Homo sapiens: one gene and its partners. The protein of the gene in region 1 interacts with the protein of each later gene in a pairwise test. Each region holds a gene or a part of one and is shown in the gene's direction. Other genes may lie near its edges. The genes, in order: RMDN3, PELI2, TFRC and SLC13A3.

Region 1 (7,545 bases):
CAAAAAATTAGTTGGGCCTGGTGGCGGGTGCCTGTAGTCCCAGCTACTCGGGAGGCTGAGGCAGGAGAATCGCTTGAACCTGGGAGGTGGAGATTTCAGTGAGCCAAGATCAAGCCACTACACTCCAGCCTGGGTGACAGAGCAAGACTCCGTCTGAAAAAAATAAAATAAAAATAGAAAAATTAGCCGGGCATGGTGGCGTGTGCCTGTAGTGCCAACTGTTTGGGAGGCTAAGGCACAAGAATCACTTGAACCCTGGAGGTGGAGGTTGCAGTGAGCCCAGATCACACTGGGCAACAAAGTGAGATTCCATTTCAAAAAAAAAAAAGAATTGAGGTCATGTTGCGGTAACAGTACCAGATCCAACCAAACAAGCACATAAGCAACACCAGGAGTACAGAAGACTAAATTACTTTTTTTCTTTTTTTTAAGAGACAGGGTCTTGCTCTGTCACCCAGGCTGGAGTGCAGTGGTGTGATCAAAGCTCACTGTAACCTTGAGCTCCTGGACTTGAGGCATCCTCCCACCTCACCTCCCACATGCCACCATCCCCAGTTAATTTTTTTTTTTTTAATTTTTTGTAGAGACAGTCTCACTGTGTTGCCCAGGCTGGTGTCCAACTCTTGGCCTCAAACAATCCTCCTGCCTTCGCCTCCCAAAGTACTGGGATTACAGGCATGAGCCACTGTGCCCAGCCTAAGCTACATTTTTTTTTTTAATTGAGACGGAGTCTTGCTCTGTTGCCCAGGCTGGAGTGCAGTAGTGTGATCTCGGCTCACTGCAAGCTCTGCCTCCTGGGTTCACACCATTCTCCTGCCTCAGCCTCCCGAGTAGCTGGGACTACAGGCGCCCGCCACCACGCCCGGCTAATTGTTTTGTATTTTTAGTAGACATGGGGTTTCACTATGTTAGCCAGGATGGTCTCGATCTCCTGACCTCGTGATCCATCCGCCTCGGCCTCCCAAAATGCTGGGATTACAGGCATGAGCCACCGCACCCGGCCATAAGCTACATTTTAAATCTGCAGTGAGATAGTGCTTTACAGGTTAGCAAAAAATAAAATAAATAAATAAATTTAAAATGTTAAAATCTGTAAATATCAAGTGTTGGTGAAGATGTCAACAATCCCACTACTGTTGGGCTTGCAAGTTGGTGTGAATGATACCCTGTGACGCAGCCAAACCTCTCCTAAATAAACCTCAGGAAAACTCACAGCCATCAGGATACATGTACAAGAATGTTCACAGCAGCACTGTAACCAGTAAAAAACTGGAAACAGCCCTTATATCTATCAAAATTAGACTAAAAGTTTTTGAGCTAGGTTGGGTGGTTCACACCTGTAAGTCCCAACACTCGGGGAGGCCAAGGCAGGAGGACTGCTTGAGCCCAGGATTTTGAGACCAGTCTGCGGAACACAGTGAGACTCCCATTTCTACAAAAAAGAAAGTTTCTGGCTGGGCATGGTGGCTCATGCCCGTGATCCCAGTGCTTTGGAACGCCAAGGCAGAAGGATCGCCTGAGCTCAGGAGTTTGAGACCAGTTTGGACAACATAGTGAGACTCTGTCTCTACTGAAAAATTAGCCATGCATGGCAGCACACACCAGCAGTCTCAGCTCCTCGGGAGGCTGAGGTAGGAGGATAGCTTGAGCCCAGGAGTTCAAAGCTACAGTGAGTGGTGATTGTGCCACTGCACTCCAGCCTGAATGGCAGAACAAGACCCTGTCTCAAAAAAAAAAATTATATATATATATTTCTAAAAGGGCTGGGCATGGTGGCTCATGCCTGTAATCCCAGCATTTTAGGAGGCCGAGGCAGGAGGATTGTCCGAGCCCAGGAGTTTAAGACCAGCCTGGGGAATACAGGGAGACCCTGTCTCTACAAAAAAAGTAAAAAATTAGCTGGGCATGGCGGCATGTGCCTGTAGTTCCACCCCCGGCTGAGGTGGGAGGATATTTTGAGCCTGGAAGGCAGAGGTTGCAGTGAGCTGAGATCATGGCACGCCTGGCTAATTTTTTTTTGTATTTTTAGAAGAGACAGGGTTTCCCCATGTTGGCCAGGCTGGTCTCGAACTCCTGACCTCATGATCCACCCACCTCGGCCTCCCAAAGTGCTGGGATTGCAGGCATGAGCCACCGTACCCAGCCAATTTTTGTATTTTTTAGTAGAGATGGGGTTTCACCATATTGGCCAGGCTGGTCTTGAACTCCTGACCTCGTGATCCACCTAACTAGGCCTCCTAAAGTGCTGGGATTACAGGCGGGAGCCACCGTGCCTGGCCTAGAGAAAGAATTATTTTTTAAGGCATCAAGAACCTTAAACATTATACACAAGGGTAAGGCCACCATCCCAAGGCATTTGACTTGTCACCTCTCTTGGAAGAGCCGGGGTAGATGAGGCAGATGTTCTGGGCAGAGGGCAGGACAACAGTTTGGGGTCTGGTCTGCTCTCTTCTCAGGCTGGGCTGTGGAGGGGGTGGGAAGGTGGGCAGTGCATATCTCAGGCAGCCAGGCCTTTATTACATTTGCAAAGCTAGTCTGCAGATGCAGCACAAGATAAAGAGCTCTGTCCAGAGCCACCCACCACACTGCTGATTGCCCTGGCAGACACGTGCCTGCCAGATAACATCTTTAATATCCAGGGGGAAATGAATTCCCCTGCTTGGTCTGCCCATTTGGCCTAGCCTCTCATCACAATCCGTTTATCTCACAGAGCTGCCTCCCCCCCGTAGAGAGGAGAAATTATTGTTCTGCCACTGAGTTTTCTGCCACAGCTGAGAACACACTGTCAAAGTGGCAGGGCGTGCTGTCGGTCACGCCTTCTTTTCTTCCTTCCTCCATTCAGCTTTTATGGATGCTTTTGCATTAGAGCTGTGCCAGGCACAGGGGACCTGGGATGAATCAGGAGTGAACCCCATCCTGGAAGAGTGGGCAGTCCAGTGGTGTAGACAGAGTAGAAAGCAAATAATCACAGAACAGAGTGTAATGGGTCTGGTGCGGTGGCTCACGCCTGTAATCCCAGCACTTTGGGAGACTGAGGCAAGCAGATTACTTGAGGTGAGGAGTTCGAGACCAGCCTGACCAACATGTAGAAATCCGGTATCTACTGAAAATACAAAAAGTAGCCAGGCGTGGGGGTGCAAGCCTGTAATTCCAGCTACTCCGGAGGCTGAGGCAGGAGAATTGCTTGAACCCAGGGGCGGGGGAGGAGGTTGCAGTGAGCCGAGATCGCACCACTGCATTCCAGCATGGGCGAAAAGAGCGAAACTCCGTCTAAAAAAAAAAAAAAAGTATAATGGAGGCAATAGAGCCACAGGAGCAAAGCAGGGTGAAAAGCTTAATTTCACCAAGGTGGTGATCTGGGAAGGTTTCCAGAGGAAATTTTTATTTCCTCCAAAATAAAGTGTATATATATATATATACTTTATATATATATAAATATATTTTTTGTTGTTGTTGTTTTTGTTTATTTGTTTTGAGAGGAGGCCTCACTCTGTTGCCCAAGCTGGAGTACAGTGGCGAGATCTCGGCTCACTGCAACCTCTGCCTCCTGGGTTCAAGCAATTCTCCTGCCTCAGCCTCCCGAGTAGCTGGGATTACAGGCGTGCACCACCATGCCCAGCTAATTTTTGTACTTTTAGTAGAGACGGAGTTTCGCCAGGTTGGCCTGGGTGGCCTCGATATCCTGACTTCTGTTGCCCAGAGTGATCATGGCTCACTGCAGCCTCGACGACCTGGGCTCAAGTGATCCTCCCATCTCAGCCCCCAGAGTATCTGTGACTACAGTCACGTGCCACCACGGCCGGCCTCCTGTATTCTTATATGTATACAATATCTCACAATTAAAGGGTAAATAAATATAAGATCTAGTCAAGGGTATTGGGAGGACTGGCCTAGATATTTCTTTCACTAAACTAAATTTTAACTCTTAAGAAATGTTCACAATAAAATTGTTATCATAGTCCATAAAATCGGTCTTTTTAGTTGCCACAATTATAAGAAGTTGCATACAATTACAAGAGTAAAACAGAATTATAAGACAGCACGTTAGGTTTAAGATTTATGGCCGGGTGCGGCGGCTCACGCACTTTGGGAGCCCGAGGCGGGCGGATCGCACTTTGAGAGACCAGGAGAGCGGGACCCAGTCTCTACAAAATAAAAATAAAAATAAAATGTGGGGAGAGCGTGACGTTTTCCAGGTACAGAGGGGAGGTCCAGGCAGAAGCGCAGGTAGAAAGTGTGAATATGCTGAGCGTATTCCGGGAGCAGCAAGTTAAGCCGGTGTGACCGGAGGGAAATGGAGGCCTGGCTGCCGGACGGTGAGGGTGACTGCGCGAGCGTCCGCCCAAGAAGTCTCCCTGCCTTCCCGCCTTTCCCCTGTCTTGGGCCCCTTCTTGCTTTCCTTTCGCGCTCTGTGCTGACTCCGCCCCTCCGGCGGCGCCCGTGGCCCCGCCCCTGAGGGAAACAGACAAGGGGCGGGGCCGGCGCGGTCATCTCTCTGCGCCTTCCCGCAGGGCGCCGAGCACCTGGCGCCGCCTGCCTGACGTCACGGTCACTGACAGCGTGAGCCCGCGGCGGCTGCTGCCATGGTGGCTGGCGGCCGGGTAAGGGTCTGAGTGGATCTCCTGCCAGGCCAGAGCGCCTTCGGGGGCCGCGGCGGAAGGCCAGGAGTTTGCAGCCAGGGCGCCGGGTTTGTGGTCTGCAGTGTCGTGAGGCTGAGGTGGGGGTTGAAGGCCCAGAAGCCGGACTCTGTGACCCGGGTCGGGGGGTGTACTGGAGGGGCGGCTACGTCCAGGCTGGGTGAGAAGAGAGGCAGTGGGGCCCAGGAGGCTGGAGGAAGCCTTAGGGTTCAGACTGGGGTGCACGTAGTCGAGAGCTCAGGGTTTGGGCAAGGGGATACCTGCCGGGGTTCAGCCTTGAGGGTGGGTTTACCGGGTTCACGAATCTCTCTCTCTCCTTACCCCCGCCCGCCCGCCCGCCTGCCTGCTCCCGGTGACTTCTGCTGGCCGCAGGTGCAGCATGTCTAGACTGGGAGCCCTGGGTGGTGCCCGTGCCGGGCTGGGACTGTTGCTGGGTACCGCCGCCGGCCTTGGATTCCTGTGCCTCCTTTACAGCCAGCGATGGAAACGGACCCAGCGTCATGGCCGCAGCCAGAGCCTGCCCAACTCCCTGGACTATACGCAGACTTCAGATCCCGGACGCCACGGTAGGAGCCCGTCTCCTGAGACCGCGGTCACTGCAGACTAATGGGCCTGAGGTCTGGGCTGCTTTCGGTGGAGACTGTGGGACAGGGTAACGGAGAGAAGTGCTTTAGGGTTTCACTTTTTTGGAAGCTTGTTGAAAAAGCAGTCGTCGGGCTGGGCGCGGTGGCTCACGCCTGTAATCCCAGCACTTTGGGAGGCCGAGGCGGGCGGATCACCTGAGGTCAGGAGTTCAAGACCAGCCTGGCCAACGTTCAACCAGATGTCAACATGGTGAAACCCCATCTCTACTAAAAATACAAAAATTAGCCGGGCGTGGTGGCGCGGCCTGTAGTCCCAGCTACTGGGGAGGCTGAGGCACGAGAATCGCTTGAACCTGGTAGGCGGAGGCCGCAGTGAGCTGAGGTTGCGCCACTGCACTCCAGCCTGGGTGACAGAGTGGGACTCTGTCTCAAAAAAAAAAAAAAAAAAAAAGCAGTCGTGGTTTTCTCTACTCTTTCGCCTGTACTCACAAGAAAGTATATTTCAAAAAGACTGTTTAACTTTCACTTTTAGTTCTGGCCACAATAGTGCTATGTGGGTATTAAAGGCACTTGCTTAGTGTTGGGTGAGGTGTGTAATAAGTAGAGGAAGAGTCCAAAAGAGGGCAAAAAGAATAATCTTGTAGGGATTAAAAGTCTTGAGGCTTATGTATTAAATCATATATTAGAATTTGAAGACAACTTGGCAACTATCAAGACAACTTGGCAACTATCTCATTCAAGTTTTTTTTTCTTTTTATCCCTCCTATGAGGAAACCAAGATTCAAAAAGATGGTATAACTTTCCTGAGGCTGTCACAGATTAAGTGGCAAGGTTGGGCCTGGTCACCTGGTCCAGTGGACTTTCTACGGCATAGGGCTAGGAGCACGCTTAATGCAATTGAAGCTGAATGTGGCTGGCAGCCTGTACAGCTGAAATGAGTAGTTCTTGCAGATTTGTCAATTCATTTGAGCAAAGGATCTAGGGCTGGTTCAAACTACTACCATCTTTGTGCAAGAGGAGTGTTTTTTTTCTTTTCTTTTCTTTTTTCTTTTCTTTTCTTTTTTTTGAGATGGAGTCTCGCTCTGTTGCCCAGGCTGGAGTGCAGTGGCATGATCTTGGCTCACTGCAACCTCCGCCTCCCTGGGTTCAAGTGATTCTCGTGCCTCAGCCTCCCGAGTAGCTGGGATCACAGGTGCGTGCCACCATGCCCAGCTAATTTTTGTATTTTTAGTAAAGATGGGGTTTCCCCATGTTGGCCAGGCTGGTCTCCAACTCCTGGCCTCGGCCTCCTAAAGTGCTGGGATTACAGGCGTGAGCCACCACACCTGGCCAAGAGGAGCGTTTACATTATCTCACTCCCATGCTAATTGGAAATGAGTGTTTTCTCTGATTGCCAATGTTAGATGGTTTGGAAAAGTTAGTTTTGGAGTCTTCAAAGAGCTATCAGCTTAGATTGCAAATGATTGTCAGCATTTTATAATCTTGTGGTAATCTAGTATTGGAGTGTGCTTCCTTCCCTTGTATTTTGTTTGTAATTGCTTCGCAGTAGTGTTTCTTCTGAGATTAGAAGAAAGTGGCCACATTGCCAGGGATCTTTCTTGCACTACATTCTTGAGCATTATTGGATGTATGTTGTGGCCTGGCCTAGTTTTTTACCAGATTTCCTTTAAGAAGGGATTTATGCTTGCCGTATTGTAGGGTCCTGCCTCTCTGGTTTCTTTTTTGTTTTTGCATTTTCCAGTTCAGTTACCATAGGTGGCTGTCACTTTGCTAGCATTTCACTGCTGGAATTTACTCTGAGATCTAGGGTTGGGTCAGCAGGGCTTAGTGACGGTGTCTTTCTGAGGCAGTTTGGATGGGCTTTTTCTGGTGTACCTTTTCTCTTAATAACTGCCCCCTTTCTCCTAGTCCTTCTCTGATATACTAAATGAAGTTCTGGGAGAAACTCCAAGTTTTCCCTACTATTATTTGTGAAGTGAGAGATCAGAATTTGAGGGAGCTCAGTTTTAGTTTTAGTTTTGCTATGTGGTTGGTATTGACTCCTTGGTATTGGGCACTATATGGTGAGGTGAAGGTTTTTGTTTTTTTTTAACTCTAGCAGGACAGCTGTCCTCCTTCAGGTTCCACACTTGGGCAAGCATGTTACATTATCTATCGTGGTGTGCAGCATTCCTGAAGGGCCCTGGTATGGAAGGTTCTTGGAGCAGAGGGCTCTCGTTTAGAGATCCCTGGGTAGTTTCTTGAGACTTGTTACCATGACCTGGCTGTGAACGTGTGCTATCTGAGCGTCACTGGGCCTTCTCTTCCAATGGAAAGCAGGTATT
Region 2 (7,024 bases), on another chromosome or scaffold:
ACATGACAACTTCCAGCCAGAGAAGAGGGTGGCAGAAGCACTGTTTCTTCCTTGTCTCTTCTTAGAGCACAGACACCTTTCTTGGAAGCCTCCAAGAAGATATCATGTGTCATCAGTCAGAGCCCAGTCATGTGCTGTGCCCACCTGTAAACCAGCTATTGGGAAGAGGGCTGGGAGTGTCATGTTGGGTTAATCAGGATTCCCCACCACCCCCCAACCCCCGCCCCAGCCACATGAACAGTAGCTGAGCTCTGTCACCAAGAAAGCTGAAGGGAAGAGCTGTGGCACAAGCACCCAAGAGTGTCTGTCCTGTCGTCATGTCAAGCTACATGCGCCATCTACCTTTGAGAATTTAAACGGTGATTATTATGAAAACATAATGACCCCGACTTGTTGGCTTAACATTTTTGGAATTTTCTAGCTTTAATAAAAGGTCTTTCTTTATGACTGTCCTTTCTCTTCTCTATCCTGACAGTGAGAACATAGAAAGTACTTTTAGATAACAGGATAGGAGCATGGCATAAGTATAACTGAAAAGAGAAAACACACCAGATTCCTGGAATCTCATGGGGTTGTGGGGAAGGTAAAAAGAATCTTAGAGGGAGAAGCCCAGGCCTCGATTTTTTGCAAGTTCTTGAGAACTATGATGTGTGTCCAGTGATAAGTCATTCATCCATTCAGCACTTCTTTTATATTGTCGAAAGGATGGCATATGTTATCCTTGTGATTATTAGCTTTAAATAGAAAATGAAAATTCATCACCTTCCTCCCCTCTGCCTCTATGCAATGTATTAAAGAAATTCCAGAATCCTTTCCATTTCAACATCATCTTAACCTACTTTTTCTGTTCTGCTGTGTTCTCTCCAGGAAAAGGCAGCAAAGTGGAAAAACCCCGACGGCCACATGGATGGGCTCACTACTAATGGCGTCCTGGTGATGCATCCACGAGGGGGCTTCACCGAGGAGTCCCAGCCCGGGGTCTGGCGCGAGATCTCTGTCTGTGGAGATGTGTACACCTTGCGAGAAACCAGGTCGGCCCAGCAACGAGGAAAGCTGGTGAGTGTGCTTCACTCTGCAAGTGTGAAGTACGAAACTACTCAAGCCTAACTCGAAGGCTATCATTTTCCTCCCCTGATGTTCAGAACCTTTGTGCAGGTCCAAGCGCCATGTACTGTAACTCAGGAGAAGCAGAATTCCACAAGCCCCTGAAATCAAGAGGGAAATGGCCTTATCTCCTTCAGGGGTTCAACTTTTCCCATAGTGGGAGTAAATTGTGTTTTGCTCCTTACCACCTGAAGAGCATTATCTTTTATTATATACCTCACCACAAAAATCTACTTAAATTCACTTTAAGGAGAAGAAACTTATTTTTAGTGTAAAACTTTATTGATTTGGAAAACGTTTGAGCAGTCCAAAAACAATTAGTAAAAATTATGCATTAAGGAATTATTTACTAGACTTTCTGGAAGTAAAAAATAAGTCAGCTGGTTTTCCCTTTGAATTCCTATATATTAAGGCAGAATTCTCTATACTGTCCACCAAAATCATAGTTACAACTGTTTACTTGAAATGATTTATATACTGCATTGACCTGGCATGTTAATATTTTCCTATAAATATCACCACTTATCCCCATGCCCTAAAGCAGTTTTTTTAAACCCATTCTTTCTTGGAGAATAATTATAATACCTTAAATATAGAACTTTGGGTTTCTGATCTTGCCATAGCCATGTAGCACAGCCACTGATTTTTAGTAAGCTGTCCATTCCTGTACTTTTCTTAATTTGCTAGGTAGAAGCTAGAACGAGAGAGAACAAATGTCTTTTTCTAGAAGCTAGAAAAGAAGGAGTTCTTCAAAACTCCCACAGAATAAAATGTATACAGAATAGAGGATTTGACCTAGCACTTGTCAGAGAGAAAGATCATCACCAAAAATGTCTAAGATGGAAAAAGAAGTTGGGGGCTGTTTCACTGACCTCATTTGCTGTTCTCTACTGGATGTTTGTGTTTAGGGAATGGTTATTTTTATTTCTATTTTACACCATTTTTCAGCTTCAGGCACAGCGTATGCGTCTTACAGTGCACCATGGCTGAATAAATATGAGAAGCATTTTCTAAAAAAAAAGCAAATTCAATAAATTTTGTATGAATGTTTTCAAGAAATTGTAAACAAAGGAGGAAATGTGAAAGCAGTTTTTCTAAATAATCTTTTGTTTCTGATCACTGGATAGTTTTATACAAAACTGACCTAGATTGGCCAAACTGGTTATTCATCATTATAACAGCAAGAGTAAGAAGTCAGTAAATGGTTGCTGGGTGCAGACTCTGCGTTAACATTTCCGACATGAGCTCACTTCATCTGCACAGCAGCCCTCTTAGGGAAGTAGAGTCATCCCCATTTCATGGATGAGGAAGATGTGGCGTGAAGTTAAAGATTGCCCAGTGTCACAGAGTTAGCAGGTGGCAGCCAGTGGGATTCAAACTCAGGTCTCCCTGATGGAGAGCCTGGACACCTAATACTACTCAGTACCATGTTGTGGGGAGCCAGGGATGGTTTACACCTGAGCATTTGCCTCCCTGGGTGAGTATAAAGCATACGCTGGAGTCCGTGGGGAGCGCCTTTGTCCAGGAGGGCATATCACAGGATGAGTTTCTCGTCCACTCTGGTTATTGTGTAATGACCCTTCTCAGGCTGCTATGTGTGCTGGAGAATTTTACAGTGCGACTGAAAAGAACGAACTCCAAAAATGGCTTGTATTAATGAGTTGTATTAAATATACAGGCTATTTTTGAAGTTAGTCCCTATAAGCGACACTGAGAACTATGTAAAATTGTGCTGTCCTATTTGATAGCATCCGATTAACCTGGCCAGTTACAAAGGCTTCTATCAGCCTGATCTTGGGCTTATGGGACACTGAACGGATACATTCTTCCTGCAATCTCCTCTTGTTAACCTCTGGAGAACAGTTTTTGTCTGTCTTCGAGGAAAGCTTACTGACTCTTTGAACTTCTGTTTCAATTCATGACTCATTGGTCCTGTACATGTTGCTGGTAGCATTTGATATAAATTATGTTTATCTGGAGGTTAGATTTTGGAGACAGTCTCTGGCAGTACTTGTCATTTGCAGTCTAATACAGAAATATGAGAAATAAAGTGAGCTGCTAAAAGTCTAAAATATTTGTTAAAACAATAGTAGTCACATTGTGGAGCTAGTGCTGGTGGAAGATTATGTATTAATATCATACTGAGCATTTGATATGAATCAATATACTAATGTATGTGTAACAAGAAATCACCGTTGTTTTTCATTATTACAGCAAATGATGGAACCTCAGAACTGTGTACTAATCAACAAAATTAATTAAATATGGGGGAAATGTCTTTTCAGGCCTTTAACTCCCTGAATAAATAGGTGAATGGAGTTTGAATTGTGCCCTCCTTTTTTAGCTAGTTAATGATAACATATGGTAACATTTATAATATTACTCCAGGAGGGCCTTGAGTATTTAATTAAATTATATATGAAGTATTTTATTAAACTAAACTGGCTTTGTATAAAATTAAGTAAATTCAGTTAAGTTGATTGCATACCTAATTTTAGGTGAAATTATAAAAATAACCATAGCGTAGCTATGGTCAGGCTCTAGCAGGTGCATTACATTAATTGTCTTTCCAGTGTTGCTTAAAATAACCCGTGAAGTCAGTGTTGTTATTGTGTCCGTCTACAGATGAGGAAACCTGGGCTTTAAAAGGTTAAGTCACTTGCTAATAAGAAGTGGTGGATGGGGGGTTGAATTCACTACCCTGTGCTTAGATAGTTGCTATGTAGGGGCCATTAGTTGCCATGGTAGAGGCCAAATGTCTCTTGCTTCCACAATACTGTCAATTCCTGTGCCTGCTCATAGCTTTTCTTTTGTGGTAGAATTTAAAAAATAAAATCTGAATTCATGCCTACTAATGATTGCTAAATCAGGCCACCAGGTTCAAGTCCTGGTTTCACCACTTAGTTCTGTGGTATTGAATTGACGACGTAACCTCTCTGTGCCTGGCTTCCACATCTCCCAAACTGGAATAATATTAATACATGTCTAATAGGACTGTTGTGAGAACTAAATTCAGTAGCTGGAAAGGATTGGAACAGTGCTGGACACAGTAATGCCCCATGACTGGCTGGTTGTTATTACTAAGCAGGGGTTGCAAACTGGGGATGTGGCAGAAAACACCAAGTCCACGCTCTGCCCTCTAATTGCATGGTCTGGAGGAGGTCACAGACTAGGCAGCAGATCAGCAGATACTGTGTGATGAGCACAGTCATGAGAAGGTACCGAAGGTACTTTCCCTCCACAGGACACCTACCCCAGATGTGGGAGTCAAGGGTATGTGGAAAATAAAAAACCATACACCCCAGATTTATAATAAGACTTTGTTGTTTACCAAGAACTGCCCTGCAGGAGGAAAGGGGGGTTGTTCCACAGCCAGAGGCTAGGCCACCACCATACCTCAGCTTCTTACCACATCAGGGTGATCCTTTAGACACAGTTTTATCCTGCAATGAGGCCTCCTCTGAGAATTGCCTGTGGTCAGCAAGGTCAGGAGCCTCACGTCACCAGTTAGAGGAGAGGAGACCATGGGATGCTCGGTATGGTGGTGGGGCGGGGAAGGAGCATCAGCAAACTTCAGGCTGTCTGAAAGGAGTCACAGTGTATGTCCTGTACAGTATTAAGATTTATCATTTGTTGGGACCTTAACTTTTTCTAAAAACTAATACTTGGGAAGGGCTGATTTCTTCATGACAAGGAAAATGTCCAGGGCAAAGTGACATCCAGGTGAGACCTGGATGACAAGTAGGAGTTTGCCAACCAGGGCTCAGCTGGAGCAGGGTGTACTGGAGTGGAGTATTCTAGGCAGAGGTTGCTCTTGCACCTGCCTGTGGGCAGTCCGAGGTAGTGCGCTCATGGACTCCAGCTCCTTGCAGCTCATCGCAGGACAGTCCTGGTTTCCAGTTAGGAAGGGAAGAGCTACAGCAGGAGAAGTCGAGTGACTGCATTGGGAGTGACCTTTTAAGTGTGTTAAGAAGCTTGGGCTGTACCCCAAGGGCAGCAGAAAGCCGCCAAAGTCCTTTGAACCAAAGATTGACAAAATTTCTGGTGCTTCCCATACCTCTCTCTTTCCCTTACATGGTTCTTTTCCTCCACCCCAGCTCCTGGCTCTGTCCTCAGTCCTCTCTGCCCTCCCTGGGACCCTGCCTGGGCAGTGGCATCCATTCCCACAGCTTCACCTAGGTGCGGATAACATCCCAGATATGTTTCTTCGAGCCTGATCTGTCTCCAACGCTGCATCACACGTGCCTTGTATGCATTACCACCACCGATACTCTGCACACCCTCACATTCAGCACACCCAAAACTGAACTGGCCTGGCTCTTGCTGTTGAACTTATTTAGTTCTCACAACAATCCTATAAGACATGTATTGGCATTATTCCAGCTTAATGGATGTGGAAGCCAGGCCCAGAGAGGTTAAGTCGTTGACTCAAGACCACAGAGCTACTAAGTGGTGAAATCAGGATTTACTCCCTCATCTGCCATTTCTCCTGTGTTTCTGTCTGTGGAAAGCACTGTTCTACCCAGACAACCAGGCACGTAAGAGGCTCTTGCTCAGATCAAGAGCTGAGTGCCATCGAGTCTAATTTCTTTCTCTCTAGTCCCTGTGCCTCTGTCTCTTGCCACTGAGACTGTCTTTGTTGAGGTGTACTCACCCTCTCTACCCAGAGAGAGCACCAGTTGCCTCCTTCACAGCTCATCTTTACCCCTCCAACCCACCCTCCAAAGTTCTAGAAGTGACCTTTTTGAAAGGTCAATCAGTTCTTTTATAGTTACCTAAACCCCCTACCAACTCCCTCTGGGCATGGATGCCAGCCTCCCTCTCCCGCCTGGGTCTCTCGTCCCCCCCCACCCAGTGCCCTGAACTGCGTCCATCCTTGTTCAGCCTGGCTGCACAGCCTCATCAAACTCCCTGTTGCTCCCTTGGTGCATATGCCATTTGGCCTCTCCTCCTTCTCCCTGCTGTGCCTTCCTGCTATCCTCCCTACTGAGGCCTGACATCTTTCTCAAATCTCTGTTAAAGAAAAACCTTTTAGAAACCATTTCTGACCGTCTGTCATCATCAGAGTAATAGTAGCAGGTATTTACAGAGTGTTGACTGCGTACCAGACAGTGTTCTCTAAGAACTCTTTGCATTTACTTATCTAACACAACCACCTTTTCTAAAGTTTAAACAAGGGGAAACTGAGGCACGAGGAGTTTAAGTAATCTGCACAGCGTCATACAGCTAATAAGTGGGAGAGCCAGGGTTCAAACCCAGAGTCCACACTCCTGGCTGCTATAAATTTGTGGCCTTGAACAGTGCTTTACTGGCCTTCATGCACTCTGAGCTCTGGGCATGTCTGCCTTCCACTACTGAAGAGCAAGTCTCAGCAGGATGGGGAAGAGGTTTTATTGGCCTTTGGTACCTCCAAGGCTTAGCATGCATCTGGCATGTGGAGGCAGCGGTCACGTTCTTGCTGACCACGCCTAGCTGCTGCTTGTCAGCTGTTAATCAGTCTTATAAGCACTTAGTGCATAGCACAGGCCTCCTTCTAAAAATGAAGGCTCATGTTGAACTGTTTAGCTTCAAACCTTAAAAATGAATGATGAAAGATAGATTCAAGGTGGAGGAAGCTAAGGGTCACCAGGAGTGCTTTGGACCCTCCAGTAATGACTGCAGGCCCCCCGCAAGATCTTCTGGATTGGCTGTCATCAAGATGAGGATGAGTCTCCACTGGATGGACTGGTAGGACATCTCTCATCCTATGGGATCAGTGAGTCATTGTGTTACTGACTTAAGGAGTTAAAAAGAAAATCTTAGGAGATTTGTGAAGTTCATTAAAATAACCACTACAGTAATTGAACATGTAAAGCTAGGTATACATACTGTGCTCAGGGCTTTGTACATACGGCATATATGTATCATATCCAGTGATCAG
Region 3 (7,024 bases), on another chromosome or scaffold:
AGACAGGGTTTCTCCATGTTGGTCAGGCTCCATGAGGTCAGAGCTCCTGACCTCAGGTGATCTGCCTCCCTCAGCCTCCCAAAGTGCTGGGATTACAGGCATGAGCCACCGCGCCCAGCCTATGTGTCAGTTTTATTGGGAGGTAATAAGGCCCTAGGAAATTCTTGTTAAAAATTGACCATTATGACTAGAAAATCTATTCTAAGTTATTGACTAGACCAGTGATAAGCAAATTTCTTAAGGGGGCAGATAATAAACCTTTTGCCAGGCTATACAGTCTCTCTTTTAGCTGTTCAACTCTGTGGGAGCAAGAAAACAGGCACAGACTGTGCGTAGTGAATGGGCATGCGGGCTGTAGTTTGCCAGTCCCTGGAGTTAACTTTAAATGCAATCAAACAGCCAACACTTACTAAGAAATAAGTCCTTGGACTTAAGTAGTCAGTAAATTTAATTAGTAGTGTAGGAAAAAAGTAGCTCTACTAGTAAGGTAAAATTAATATTCTCATGTGAATTTTTAATTCCCAGAGTTTTTAGTCAGATTTGAAGTAAGGCTCTTTTATCCTTAATACATATACTGTGCTTTTACCTTTCTACTGATGTGCTAATTCTAGAAAAGTTTAGAAGCTGATTATATAAGTTCTTTCTTCCTCTTTTTTCTTTTTTAAAGATCACTATGTTGTAGTTGGGGCCCAGAGAGATGCATGGGGCCCTGGAGCTGCAAAATCCGGTGTAGGCACAGCTCTCCTATTGAAACTTGCCCAGATGTTCTCAGATATGGTCTTAAAAGGTAGAGTACAAATTTTGATTCTTTTGAATATTGGTGCACTGCATACAGTTCTAGATGTTATACTGTGCTTTGCTCACTTTGCCTGCATTCCTGTGGTTCTCATGCTAGACTCTAGTTCTTAAATACAAGGCAGATTGTCTTTTGTTGTAGCTGCCTTTTCCTTTGAAACAGCTTTCCATAAAGTGTCTTAACTGTGCTAGAAATCACCAGTTTCTTTGAGACAGTGGAGTTACTGAGCCCTAGTGCTTAGTGTGGTGGATCCAGAGTGATAAGGTGGATCATAGTCCCTAAGCAATCTATTTGAAAGCAGTAGCATACCTCTCTACTCATGTACTGAGGCCTAACAGCTATTGAAATTTTGTTCTGTTTATTCATTTATTCATTTTTTGAGACAGAGTTTCACTCTGTTGCCCAGGCTGGAGTGCAGTGGTGTGATCTCACTTAGCTCACTGCAACCTCTGCCTCCCGACTTCAAGCAATTCTCCTGCCTCAGCCTCCTGAGTAGCTGGGATTACAGGCACCCACAACCACACCCGGCCAATTTTTGTATTTTTACTAGAGACAGGGTTTCGCCATGTTGGCCAGGCTAGTCTCCTGACCTCAAGTGATTCACCCGCCTCAGCCTCCCAAAATGCTGCTAGTGAGCCACCGTGCCCTGCCTCTTTTGTTTATTTTTGAGCCTTTCTGTCCTACTTTCCACTCTTTCACACTCCTACCCACCCACACATTCAAAATCACGTCACATTCTTGAATCTTTGGGTCTTAGGGCAAACTGCAATGCTTAACTTTAATACAGAGTACATTAATGGAGAAAAAGATACAGTGAGGGAAGTGGGAGGGATGGAGGGCAGTGTGATACATGTAACCTCAAAAGGTGCTGTCACAAATATAGTTTCTCTGCAAACTCTTCTTGTAACTTAAATTTGTGAATTTTTATTTTATTTTAGAATTATTTTTTTAAAAATCCAATGTTTGGATTTACCTCTGAAGATTTTTCTCAAGATGTGCATCATCATGCTTACACTGTTTTCAATGATCTCTGGGTCCAGAAGTTAAGGAACTCCAAGAATGAAATTGTGAAAGGGTGACTACTGGCCCCTGCTATGTACTCAAAATCTTATTTGCAGATCTCCTATCTTGCTCTTTGTAGGTTACTTTAAAAAAAATTATTCCTATTCTTTTATTCTTTTACCTGGGGTCTCAAAAAAAGATTTTGTTAGTTTTTTTTTTCTTTTTTGGCTCAGAAAAAAAAGATTTTGGAATCTGCTATCTTGGAATTAGACCTTCTGATTCATCTTAAGTGGGATACCTTCCATCCTTGTCTGTGTATAACCTTTCCTCAGGTAAAGCTAACTTTTTTCTCTTTCAGATGGGTTTCAGCCCAGCAGAAGCATTATCTTTGCCAGTTGGAGTGCTGGAGACTTTGGATCGGTTGGTGCCACTGAATGGCTAGAGGTATTCTTTATCATCCCTTCCCATATTGGACACGAGCTTGTGGGCTTAGGCTGTTGTCCAGAAGTGATGTTTTTATAGGTTTGATTTTACCACTTTTGCCTTTGCGTTTAGTCTCAGTAGAGTCCAGAATTGAAAATGAATCCCTAATGCTACTGTATGTGATAAATAAACAGATTTATACTTATTAGTGTTTTCCCTTCTCTTCTAGGGATACCTTTCGTCCCTGCATTTAAAGGCTTTCACTTATATTAATCTGGATAAAGCGGTTCTTGGTAAGTATCCCTTTCATTAGCTGTGTATGAATTCAGGTAAACTTTTTTGAGATGGAGTTTTGCTCTTGTCGCCCAGGCTGGAGTGCAATGGCACGATCTCGGCTCACTGCAACCTCTGTCTCCCAGATTCAAGCGATTCTCCTGCCTTAGCCTCCTGAGTAGCTGGGATTACAGGTGCTCACTACCACACCCAGCTAATTTTTTGTATTTTTAGTAGAGACAGGGCTTCACTATGTTGGCCAGGATGGTCTCGAACTCCTGACCTCAGGCGATCTGCCTGCCTCGGCCTGGGATTACAGATGTGGGCCACTGTGCCTGGCCAGATAAACTACTTTGAAGTGGAAGAAAGCTTTTTTTTTTTTTTGAGACAGGGTCTCACTGTATTGCCCAGGCTAGAGTGCAGTGGCACAATCTTGGCTCACTGCAGCCTTGACCTCCTGGGCTCAGGTGATCCTCCCACTTCAGCCACCTGGCTAATTTTTTTTGTAGAGATGGGGTTTTGCCATGTTGCCCAGGCTGGTGTCAAACTCCTGAGTTCAAGCATTCTATGTCAGCTGCCCAAAATGCTGCGGTTACAGGCATGAGCCATTGCCCTCAGCCTGTATCTTAACCTTCCTTTAAATAGTCTGTCAAGTTACACAGTGAGCACAATTGCTTGTCTAGAACAGTGGGTAGTTCTCAGTGTGGCCCCCAGATGAGTAGCATTAGGAACTGTTACGAATGCAAACTGTCATGTCTACCCCAGACCTTTGAGTCAGAAATGGGAGTGTTGGTCTAAAAACTGGGCTTTTTGGGCTGGGCGCAGTGGTGCACGCCTGTAATCCCAGCACTTGGGAGGCCAAGGCAGGCGGATCACCTGAGGTCAGGAGTTCGAGACCAGCCTGGCCAACATGGTGAAACCCCGTCTCTACTAAAAATACCAAAATTAGCCGGGTGTGGTGGCGAGTACCTGTAATCCCAGCTACTCAGGAGGCTGAGGTAGGAGAATCACTTGAACCCGGGAGGCAGAGGTTGCAGTGAGCCAAGATGGCGCCATTGCCCTCCAGCCTGGGCGACAGAGCGAGACTCCATCTCAAAAAAACAAACAAAAAAACTGGGCTTTTTTTTTGGCAACCCTTGGGGAATAAAAACCTATTATTTTCTTAAGGACAAAGTATCCTGAAGCAAAAAAACCCAAACAAAGAAACAAAAAACTTTAACAAGCACTACAGGTAATTCTGATGGACTAAAGTTTTAGGACCATAAGTCTGGACTATATTGAGGTGAGAAGAAACTAAACTATGCCATATAGAATGGTACTTAGAGAGTAATTCACATCCTGTTACGTTGTGGCATCACTGATAGAAATATTGGATAATGAAACTTCTAGAAGAGTTTGAATGTTCACTGGCAGCAGAAAATTGACAAAAGGGTTTGAATGTTATTTAAAGTGCAGCTGTACATTCAACAGGAATGGGGTAAAAAAGAAAGTGCAGATGTAGCTGATGAGCTGAGAATAGTGAAATGTCTACATGGGGGAAAAAAGGAAAGAGTTACAATTAAACCTCTCTAGGTTAGTTATTTCCCTGTTGTATGTTTGCCGCAGAATGTGCTGAGTATAGCAAGCATACTATGTATAGCTCTAACCTGGGTGAACCAGAAAGTTAAACATGAAATTGCTAATGGGGGAGGCTGCACATGTGTGGGGGCAGTGGATTTATGGGACCTCTAGGTACCTTTCTCTTAATTTTGCTGCTGAACCTAAAACTGGTCTGATTTTTTTTTTTTTTTTTTTTTTTTTTTTTGAGATGGAGTCTCGCTTTGTCACCCAGGCTGGAGTGCAGTGGCGCCATCCCAGCTCACTGCAAGCTCCGCCTCCCGGGTTCATGCCATTCTCCTGCCTCAGCCTCCCGAGTAGCTGGGACTACAGGTGCCCGCCACCACACCCGGCTAATTTTTTGTATTTTTAGTAGAGACGGGGTTTCACTGTGCCAGCCAAGATGGTCTCGATCTCCTGACCTTGTGATCCACCCGTCTGGGCCTCCCAAAGTCCTGGGATTACAGGCGTGAGCCACCGTGCCCGGCCTAACTGCTCTGATATTTTTAAAAAAGGTGACTTGGATTAAAGTATGCAAACTCAAGGAGTAGTACGAGCCCACTTGAGTGAAGTTAGCTTAGTTGCTAAAGAGCTTGATACCAAAATTACTTTTGTTTACTTGATGAATGGGATAGTTGTTGCACAGGGCCACTGATCTAGATTACTGTCTTATTTGTCAAGTACTTATAGTTGTAGAAGTAGCAGTGTGAAAATTATCGGAATGGAGAAGGGGCAATGATAAAACAATTTATTTTCAGGTACCAGCAACTTCAAGGTTTCTGCCAGCCCACTGTTGTATACGCTTATTGAGAAAACAATGCAAAATGTGAGTATATACCTCATTACAAAAATGTATGACTTAATTTTTGTTGAATCAACCTGAGATAAAAAACACTGATATGTAAACCGTAGTCAGTAACAAAAAATAGGAATTGAGAATAAATTTTATAGCAGCGTTATTTAAGGGATACTTGCCTATTGAACCATATGAGATGAGGGCTCCAATCTTAAAGAATATGTTGTTTATTTAGGAATATATAACAAAATGCCATGAGGCCTAAGCTGTAGTGCAGGGGCCCACAGGGGATTGTCTATAGAGTCACAATGCTAAGGAAGGCTTAAATCAACTTGAACTATACTTTGAGAAGGCCGGAGGAAATATTCATTGAATAAACAATTACCATAGTTTTGAATGAGGGAGAGCATGTGAAAGAAAATATTTGCCTATGTGGGGTGGGGGGAGGGGAGAGGGATAGCATTGGGAGATATACCTAACGCTAGATGACGAGTTAGTGGGTGCAGTGCACCAGCATGGCACATGTATACATATGTAACTAACCTGCACAATGTGCACATGTACCCTAAAATTTAAAGTATAATTAAAAAAAAAATAAATAAATAAATAAAAAAGAAAATATTTGCCTAATGGGATTAGAGGCTGTATATTGGAGTGAGTAAAGTTAGAAACAGGTCAGATAGCAGACATTGGCCTTGATCCAAGAGATACTAGGGATTATAGGATCTCAAGCAAGGTGATCATGAATTTGCCAGTTAGGTTGGTGGCATAAGATGCACTAGAAGGAAGAAACCAGAAACAAGATAGGCATAGTGTGAAGCCCAGAGAGGGCTTTTACAATTGTGGGTAAGCCACCATGGTTTTGTTTGTTTGTTTGTTTGTTTTTGAGATGGAGTCTTCCTCTGTCTTCCTCCAGCACTCAGGCTGGAGTGCAATGGTGCGATCTTGGCTCACTGCAGCCTCCACCTCCTGGGTTCAAGCGATTCTCCTGCCTCAGCCTCCTGAGGAGCTGGGACTACAGGTGCACACCACCACACCTGGCTAATTTTTGTATTTTTAGTAGAGACGGGGTTTCACCATGTTGGCCAGGATGGTCTCAATCCCTTGACCTCATGATCTCTTGACCTTGGCCTCCCAAAATGCTGGGATTACAGGTGTGAGCCACCGCGCCCAGCTTTTATTCATTTTTTTTTCCTTTTTTTTTTTTAAGAGATAAAGTCTTGCTGTGTTGCCCAGGCTAGTCTCAAACTTCTGGGCTCAAGTGATCCTCCCAGCTCGGCCTCCCAAAGTGTTGGGATTGCAGTTGTGAACTACCCCACCCGGCCTAGGCCCACTTTTAAAATGTTAATTAAGAAGAAAACATTTTTTCCTCACCATAACTAAAGGAACTGACAACATGAGCCTAGTTAGTAATAACTTAAAGTTGAGATTGTTTTAACTATCATAAATAATTTCTTTTCAAGAAGATATAATACAAGTTTTTTATTTAAAAATTGTTATAGAGTAACATGTTAGTGACTAGCCTGAATAAATAAGTTCCAAAAGGTTAGTTTTAATGATAATTTCTTATCTTACAGGTGAAGCATCCGGTTACTGGGCAATTTCTATATCAGGACAGCAACTGGGCCAGCAAAGTGTAAGTTGAGAAAAGTGAATGAACAAACTAATAGAAAAGCAGAGATTCTACCTACTACATTAGGTAGAATCTAAATCTGTCCTTGCATTGAACTTACTTACACCTAAAGATATTCAGCTAAAGAATTTATTTTGGATGGGGGGACTAGCACGATAGAACAGTCTATTCTTTAAAACACTTTCTAAAGACACATTCTTTGTCTTTGCAGTGAGAAACTCACTTTAGACAATGCTGCTTTCCCTTTCCTTGCATATTCTGGAATCCCAGCAGTTTCTTTCTGTTTTTGCGAGGTAAGTCTGTTCATTTAAATGACAAATGGAGAGAGGCTCTCTAAAAGGAAGTGATCTGTATTTGGGAATAGGGCATTGCAATGGGAATGCCTGTGCTATAGTCAACTATGTACATATTCAGAGGAGTAAAGGAAAACAAGTTTTTAAGGACAAATGACGAGGATTACAAAATTACTTTGAGGTAATTATTCTTGGCTACCAAGATCAATAAC
Region 4 (7,024 bases), on another chromosome or scaffold:
GTTGTTCCTGTTGGCAGGCTGGCTCTGGATCTCCTTCCTGTACGGGGGACTGAGCTTCAGGTACCTCTCATTTTCTTTTTGGCAATAGAGTGGGGAAGCAGGGAATGGCGTTTCTAACCTCAGTATCTGCCTATGAAAACTGAGGATGATTGTTATTTCATGTTGTATTCTCATTTCTTTCTTTTATGTATGTATGTATGTAGGTATGTATATATGTATGTATGTATGTATGTATGTATGCATTTAGTTTTACAGACAGGGTCTTGCTCTGCTGCCCAGGCTGGAGTGCAGTGGTGCGATCATAGCACATTGCAGCCTCAATCTCCCAGGTTCAGTGTTCCTCTGGCCTCAGCCTCCCAAGTAGCTGAGACTACAGGCAAGTGCCACTGTGCCTGGTTAAATTTTTTTTTTTAATTTTTTGTAGAGACAGAGTCTCACTATATTGCCCAGGCTTGTCTCAAACTTCTGGCCTCAAGTGATCCTTCTTGTCTTGGCCTCTCAAAGCTCTGGGGTTATAGGTGTGAGCCACCGTGCTAGCCATATCCTCATTTCTTGACCTCCCAGGGATGTGAGGATTAAGTGAGAGGTGTGACCTGCCTGCCACACACAGACCCTCTGTTGATGTCACATATTATTCATAATTATTAATAGTATTGTCTTTAAATAAGGTAAACACTCTTGACCAGAGAAGAGGGGAGTGCACGATTTCCCATTTTATGGGGCCCTGATACAGAAGATAATTTGGGGTGGCATGAGGACAAAATACTAAATAACACCAAATCATATTATGGGAAATATGTCTTTATCAACTCTCATCACTCAGTCTACTTACGTTGAGGAGAAAGTCTCAGTTGGGTGCTAAAGAAACCTTAATATCTAACATTTCCAAATCAACCTCTAAACGAAGAAAGAGCAAGCTTCAGACCCAGAGACTTGAGCCAGAAATGATAACTAGCCAAAATATAATACTGGCACTTTGTTTTCCTATATTTATTTTGCTTACTTCAATTACTTTTTAATATGGCTACCTTAATTTGGATAGGCAATACATACATATGCTTCTCAAAAATCAAAACAGCGCTAAGAGGTATGCAGTGAGAACCCCTCTTCCCAACCATGGGCCTCTTCTGCCACGATATCCTCCCAAACAAGCATCCACTTTTATTGGTTTCTTGTGTAACCTTCCAGAGTTTTCTTAAGCAAATATGAGCAGACATAGATATCTTTTTCTAGTGACTGGCCTCCGTGACAGATTTTTGTTTGTTTGTTTATTTATTTATTTATTTATTTATTTATTTAGACAAAGTCTCATTCTGTCACCCAGGCTGGAGTGCAGTGGCACCATGTCGGAGTGCAACCTCCACCTCCCAGGTTCAGGCCATTCTCCTGCCTCAGCCTCCAGAGTAGCTGGGACTACAGGCTCTTGCCACCTTGCCCAGCTAATTTTTTGTGCCTTTTTTTTTTTTTGGTAGAGAGAGGGGTTTACTCTGTTGGCCAGGCTGGTCTCAAACCTCAAGTGATCCACCCACCTCGGCCCCCCAAACAGCTGGGATTACAGGCATGAGCCACCCAAGCCCAGCTGTTTTTTAATTTTTATTTTATTATTTTTTTCTCTTTTACCTTGCAGCTGTAGCTCAAAGGAAGCAAGCATTTTTATAAGATACATTTCCAGAAGTGGGATTTCTGGATCAGAGAATAAACACATTTTTATTTTAATAGATATTATCAAATCATTCTTCATAAAAATCGTACATGTTTCCTCTCCCATGAACAATGTATGAGAGTGTCTGCTTCCTTGCAGCAAAGTGGATTTTTGCCAATCTGATAAGAGAAAAATAACTTGTGTTTATTTTATGAACAGTAATTTTGGGCAACTTTTCATAGGTTTGGAAGCATATGAAAAGTTTGTTCATAGGTATTTTCTTTCCTGTGAATTGTGAAACTGTGTGTTCATATTTTTATACATTTTTTTCAAATGGGTTTTTGGTCTTGTTCTTACTAGTTTCTGGTATGCTTTATATTTTAGAAAGATGAGTGCTTATTCTACAATAGAAGCTACATTTTTTTTCCTGATTTGTCTTTTGGCTTTGCTTATGGTGCTTTTCTCCCTGCAGAATTGTTTTAATTTTTTTTTCAATCTTTTCTCATATGGTTTCTGAAATTTCAGTTACAGTTTAGAAAGGTTTTCCTAATACAGGACTTATAAAAGAATAATCATATGTTTTCTTCTAGTATTATTATTTTTTTTTACATTTAAACCTCTAATCTATTTGGAGTTCATCCTTATGGTACAGTGTGAAGTTTGGATTCAACTTCACTTTTTTTTGTCCCAAATGGTCACCCAGTGTCCTAACACCATTTATGGACACACAACATTTTACTATTTTGATGAAGTCAAATTTATCTATCTTTGATGGCTTGTGTTTTTGACGTAATATTGAAGAAACTGTTGCCTATTCCAAGGGCATGAAAATTTACCACTGCCCTTTCTTCTGAGAGGTTTATGGTTTTAACTCTAACCATATTATTCCAAGGCACATGAAAATTTACCCCTGCCTTTTCTTCTGAGAGTGTTATGGCTTTAGCTCTAACATTTAGGTCTTCAATCCATTTTGGGTTTAATTTTGTATTTGGTGTGAGGTAGGGGTCCAGATTCATTCTTTTCCACATGGCTGTCCAGTTTTCCTAGCACCATTTGTTGAAAGGCTATTCCTTCCCCCACTATTCAGTCTTGGTACGCCTGTCAAAAATCAACTGGCCATAGATGGATGGGTTTATTTCTGGGCTCTCAACTCTGTTCCATTGATCTATATGTCTGATACCATTTACTGAATAGCCCATCTTTTCCACACCAATCTGAGATAGCAATTTTATTATAGACTAAATTCCCATTTGTGATTGAGTCTGTGTCTAGACTTTCTGTTTTGTTCCATTGATTCCTGTGTTTATTCATGTGCCTGTTTGACCCACTCATGGATTTTAAGCCTGGAAGTCATATCATCAGATTCACATTTTCAAAGATCAACCAGGCTATACGTGGGGAGAACAACTGTAGCAAAGGAAGACAGTTGCAGGGAGACAAGCTATCAGGCAGTTGCAGCCTCCCGGACAGAGAGGATGTGGCTTGGTCAGGTGGTGGTGCTTGTTGTAGGTGAGAAGTTAGTTATACCTGCAGTGGCCACTCCTAATCTCCCACTTTCTGTTTCAGGGGCTGGAGGAAGAATAAATCTGAGATAAGAACCAATGCAGAAGATAGGGCTCGAGCTGTAATTCGGGAAGAATACCAGAACCTGGGGCCCATCAAGTATGTGGGGGCCCTTGGGTTAAGGAAAGAGCTGAGTATTAAACGCTCAGGAGAGCTTCCTCCTGGCCTGGCCTTGGGCCCATGGGGGCTGAGCTCCAGGGGAATTCCAGGACCCGTGGCGTGGGAGCCTAGAGATGGAGGATGGGAGGTGGTTTACACAGTCAACCTCTTGCCGTGGTGCTGGGGTAGAAACCTGAGGACCAAAAAGCCCCTCAGAGTGTACTTACAGTGGGATCTGCTACCTTCCACCCAAGGCACCGTTTCCCTCCCGGTACGCAGAATACCTGACACTATCTCAGGTGACTTCCGGGACCTTGTTTAATGCACATTTCCATATGGTGAAAATAACGGGTTCAGTAGGCCTGTGTTCAAGGACCAGCTGTGCCACTCATGTCCTGTGTGGCTTTGGTCATGGCACTAACCCTCTCTGGGCCCTGCTCTCCAGTCTGTGAAATGGGTACATTGGGTAACTGTCTCCTCCAACTCTTGGGGATCCTCTCTTTCCACCTTCATCCACCCTCTCTCCAGGTCTGTCCCCTCTCTGTGTCTTCTCCTTTCGGTGTAGACAGACTGTGTGTTTTTCTGTCTCTCTCTCTCTCTGTATGAATGCTCCTCTTTCTCTTTGCCTACTGCATTTCTGTCTGTTTCTCTTCCTCTCTGCTTTTCGGACTCTGTCTCTGTTTCTCACTTTCTTGATTTTCCGTAGGACCCTGGTAAACTCCTGGTGATAATGAAACACGCGATTTCGGGGAGGGGGTGGCTTGAGGCTCAGGAAGGATCCTGAGGGATCGTGGAAGTCCTAGGACAGGAATCATTTACAGTCCATTGGCACCCCTCCCCTCACTCTGGGCACTCCCTGGGGAGTGGATGACTTCAGCTTTCTCAGAGGCAGAGCCCGGGCCCAGTCACTCCCAGTGGGCAGCTGCCTGAGCCTGTGCCTGCTGCGGTCTGCCTGAAACCCGGGGTCACCATCATGCCTGCATGTCTGTGCCACAGGTTTGCCGAACAGGCTGTTTTCATCCTTTTCTGCATGTTTGCCATCCTCCTCTTCACCCGGGACCCGAAGTTCATCCCTGGCTGGGCCAGCCTCTTCAATCCTGGGTGAGACTCTGGGGACCCACAGGGAGGAGTCCAACAGGGAGGATTCTGGGCTGGGCCACCTGGAGCTGGAGAGGCGGCAGTGCAGCTGGGGAGACACGCATCCAAGTTTCCATCTTTTGTCCCATATGATTATTAATAGGTCCCTCTTTCACTCTCAAAAGAGTTTAGGTTTGGGTGATAAAATATGACTTCTCATGTGTTGGGAGCTCTGGATTTGGAGTCAGACTAAACTGGGTTAGAATTCTAGCTCTGCCACTTACGAGCTGTGTGACTGAGCAAATCGTTCATTCATTCAATCAACATTGATTGAGAACCTATTATGTGCTAAGCTGGATGCTGGATGCTGGGACACAGACAAAAGCAAGTAGTTAGACAACAAAACAACTGCATTGCAATGAGTGCTATGAAGGAAAGACTGAGAGGGTTATGCTATAAAATAATAGAGCAGGGGCATTGACTTTGGACAGTTCTGGGAAGAGCCAAAGCTTAGGAAGACTGCAGATGAAAGCAGTGGAGATGCCCTGGGAATGTCTACTGAAGCCTGAGTCAGAACAAACGTAGCATGTTTGAGAAAATGAGAAAAGCCCAGTGGGAGCGAGGCCTGGTGGGAAGGAAGGAAAGCGGGTGAGGAAAGGTAGGGGAGGGCCAGATCAGAGTGTCTTTTCGGGCATGTTATGCATTTTGGTTTGTTTTTTTTCTGTGAGCAGTGGGCAGCCATTGGAGGGTTGTAAGGTACTCAACCTCTCTGTGCCTCAGTTTCCTAATCTGTAAAATGATATTATACTAGTACGTTTTTCATTGACTTGTTGTAAAGGTAAATGAGTTAATACATGTCAAGTGATTAAAATGGCTCATAAAAAGAACTCAATAGTTGTTAGCTATATTCATTAGGAAATGGGTAGTGGGGGCAAAAATATAGACGAGGAGAATAGTTAGGAGCTATAACATCATCTAGATGGCCCGTGTCTTTTTGGGCCAAATCTGGCCCGCCATTTGATTTTGAATGATTTTTACATTTTTTAAATGGCTGCGGAAAAATCAAAAGACAACGTCTTGTAATACACGAAAATTATATGAAATTCAAATTTCAGTGTCTGCAAATAAAGTTTTATTGACACACAGCCACACCTATTCAATTACATATTGTCTATGGCTGCTTTCATACTCCAATGTCAAATGTGAGTCCAGACAAACACCATGTGGCCTGCAAAGCCAAAATACTTACTGTGTGGCTTTTTACAGGAGACATTTGCTGACCCCTGGTCTGGGGGATGGCTTGAGTGAGGGTGGTAGCAATGGCAATGTAGCAGTCAAGATATCATTCAAAGTTAAATGTGGGACTTGTGCTGGGTTGGATTGGGGGGTGTGAATGAAAGGAGTACCTGCATGGATGGTGGTTAATTGGAGAAGAATATTTTTTAGGGGGCTGGGAATGGCTTATTCATAATTCTATTTTGGACTTGGTTTAGACTTGTCAAGCTCAATAGGCAGTTAGATATGCAAGACTGGAGCTTAGAGGAGATGTTTAGGTTGCAGACATAAATCTGGGAGTCATTGTATAAATTTGGGAGTTAAATCCGTAGGAATCAATGGGCTCAGCTATGGAAAGTGTTTAAGTAGAGTATAGACCATGAGGAACCCCAGCACTTGGGAGCTGGGGAAAGGAAAATGAATTTACCAGAGAAACAGAGAGATGGTGAGTGAGGTAGAAGGAAAACTTAGAGCTATGGACCAGCAAAAGCCAAGAGAGGGGAGTGTTTTAAGAAGCGTGAGTGGGCACTGTGTCAAATTCTGGTGTGAGTGGGAACATGATTAAATAGAGATGTATCTGCTGGATTTGGTGAAATCTGATTATTTCAGTTAGCCCCATCCAAGAGAGATATAATGTGAGCCACATATGTATTTTAAATTTTTTGGTAGCTATATTAAAAAAGTGAAAAACAGATGAAACTAATATGAATAATATATTTTATGTATAAATTATTAGTGAGATATTTTGCATTCTTTTTTTCATGTGAAATCATCAAAATCTGGTGTGTGCTTTACATTTAAAGCACATGTCAGTTTGGTCTTGCCACATTTCAAGTGCCCACTAGCCCACATGTGGCTTGTGGCTACCATACTGGGCAGTGCACAATCCAGATATCTCACCTTCTGGGCCTCAACCTCTTCCCTGGTAAAATGGGTGACATAAATTCTGATCTCCTGAAGGTTGTTATAAGCAAGAAACAATATAATTTCATGAAGCCATGAAGCTCTTGTTGCTCTTACCATTTTTTTATTTTTCTAAAATGTAGATGCTTTATTTTTTTCAGATGCAAAATGGGCATTATAAGCATTTCAACAATACAGAAAATGTGAAGATCAGCTAAATCTCAGTCTCTAATTCTGATATACATCTTTCCTGACTTTTAAACAATGCCTATCTGAGAACTGTTCTACATTGTGATCACGCTGTTATCGGACTGCATACATTTGTCAAGACTTGTTAAACTATACCCTTAAAATGGGTGCATTTTATTGCATGTTAATTATACCTCAATGAAACATATGCCAATTGGCTTTTAGAACCCTATTAAAAGAAGATTTTTTTAACAGAAATGTGATCACGTCAACATA

Evidence for each region.
Region 2: the proteins of RMDN3 (region 1) and PELI2 interact in binary tests that used the Homo sapiens proteins (3 or more experiments, as listed by UniProt).
Region 3: the proteins of RMDN3 (region 1) and TFRC interact in binary tests that used the Homo sapiens proteins (3 or more experiments, as listed by UniProt).
Region 4: the proteins of RMDN3 (region 1) and SLC13A3 interact in binary tests that used the Homo sapiens proteins (3 or more experiments, as listed by UniProt).

Annotation. Positions count from the first base shown.
Region 1 is NC_000015.10:40,752,255-40,759,799, reverse strand, and holds the start of RMDN3 (regulator of microtubule dynamics protein 3), read left to right. Parts: upstream 1-4,545; 5' UTR 4,546-4,717; intron 4,718-5,009; 5' UTR 5,010-5,016; coding exon 5,017-5,203; intron 5,204-7,545.
Region 2 is NC_000014.9:56,289,401-56,296,424, forward strand, and holds part of PELI2 (E3 ubiquitin-protein ligase pellino homolog 2), read left to right. Parts: intron 1-867; coding exon 868-1,056; intron 1,057-3,318; coding exon of another isoform or gene 3,319-3,366; exon of another isoform or gene 3,367-3,955; intron 3,956-7,024. UniProt on the Homo sapiens protein: E3 ubiquitin ligase catalyzing the covalent attachment of ubiquitin moieties onto substrate proteins. Involved in the TLR and IL-1 signaling pathways via interaction with the complex containing IRAK kinases and TRAF6.
Region 3 is NC_000003.12:196,058,072-196,065,095, reverse strand, and holds part of TFRC (transferrin receptor protein 1), read left to right. Parts: intron 1-667; coding exon 668-787; intron 788-2,156; coding exon 2,157-2,242; intron 2,243-2,450; coding exon 2,451-2,514; intron 2,515-4,848; coding exon 4,849-4,916; intron 4,917-6,463; coding exon 6,464-6,522; intron 6,523-6,730; coding exon 6,731-6,812; intron 6,813-7,024. UniProt on the Homo sapiens protein: Cellular uptake of iron occurs via receptor-mediated endocytosis of ligand-occupied transferrin receptor into specialized endosomes. Endosomal acidification leads to iron release.
Region 4 is NC_000020.11:46,585,440-46,592,463, reverse strand, and holds part of SLC13A3 (Na(+)/dicarboxylate cotransporter 3), read left to right. Parts: coding exon 1-60; intron 61-3,208; coding exon 3,209-3,304; intron 3,305-4,300; coding exon 4,301-4,405; intron 4,406-7,024. UniProt on the Homo sapiens protein: High-affinity sodium-dicarboxylate cotransporter that accepts a range of substrates with 4-6 carbon atoms, such as the citric acid cycle intermediates succinate and alpha-ketoglutarate (2-oxoglutarate), as well as other compounds including N-acetyl-L-aspartate.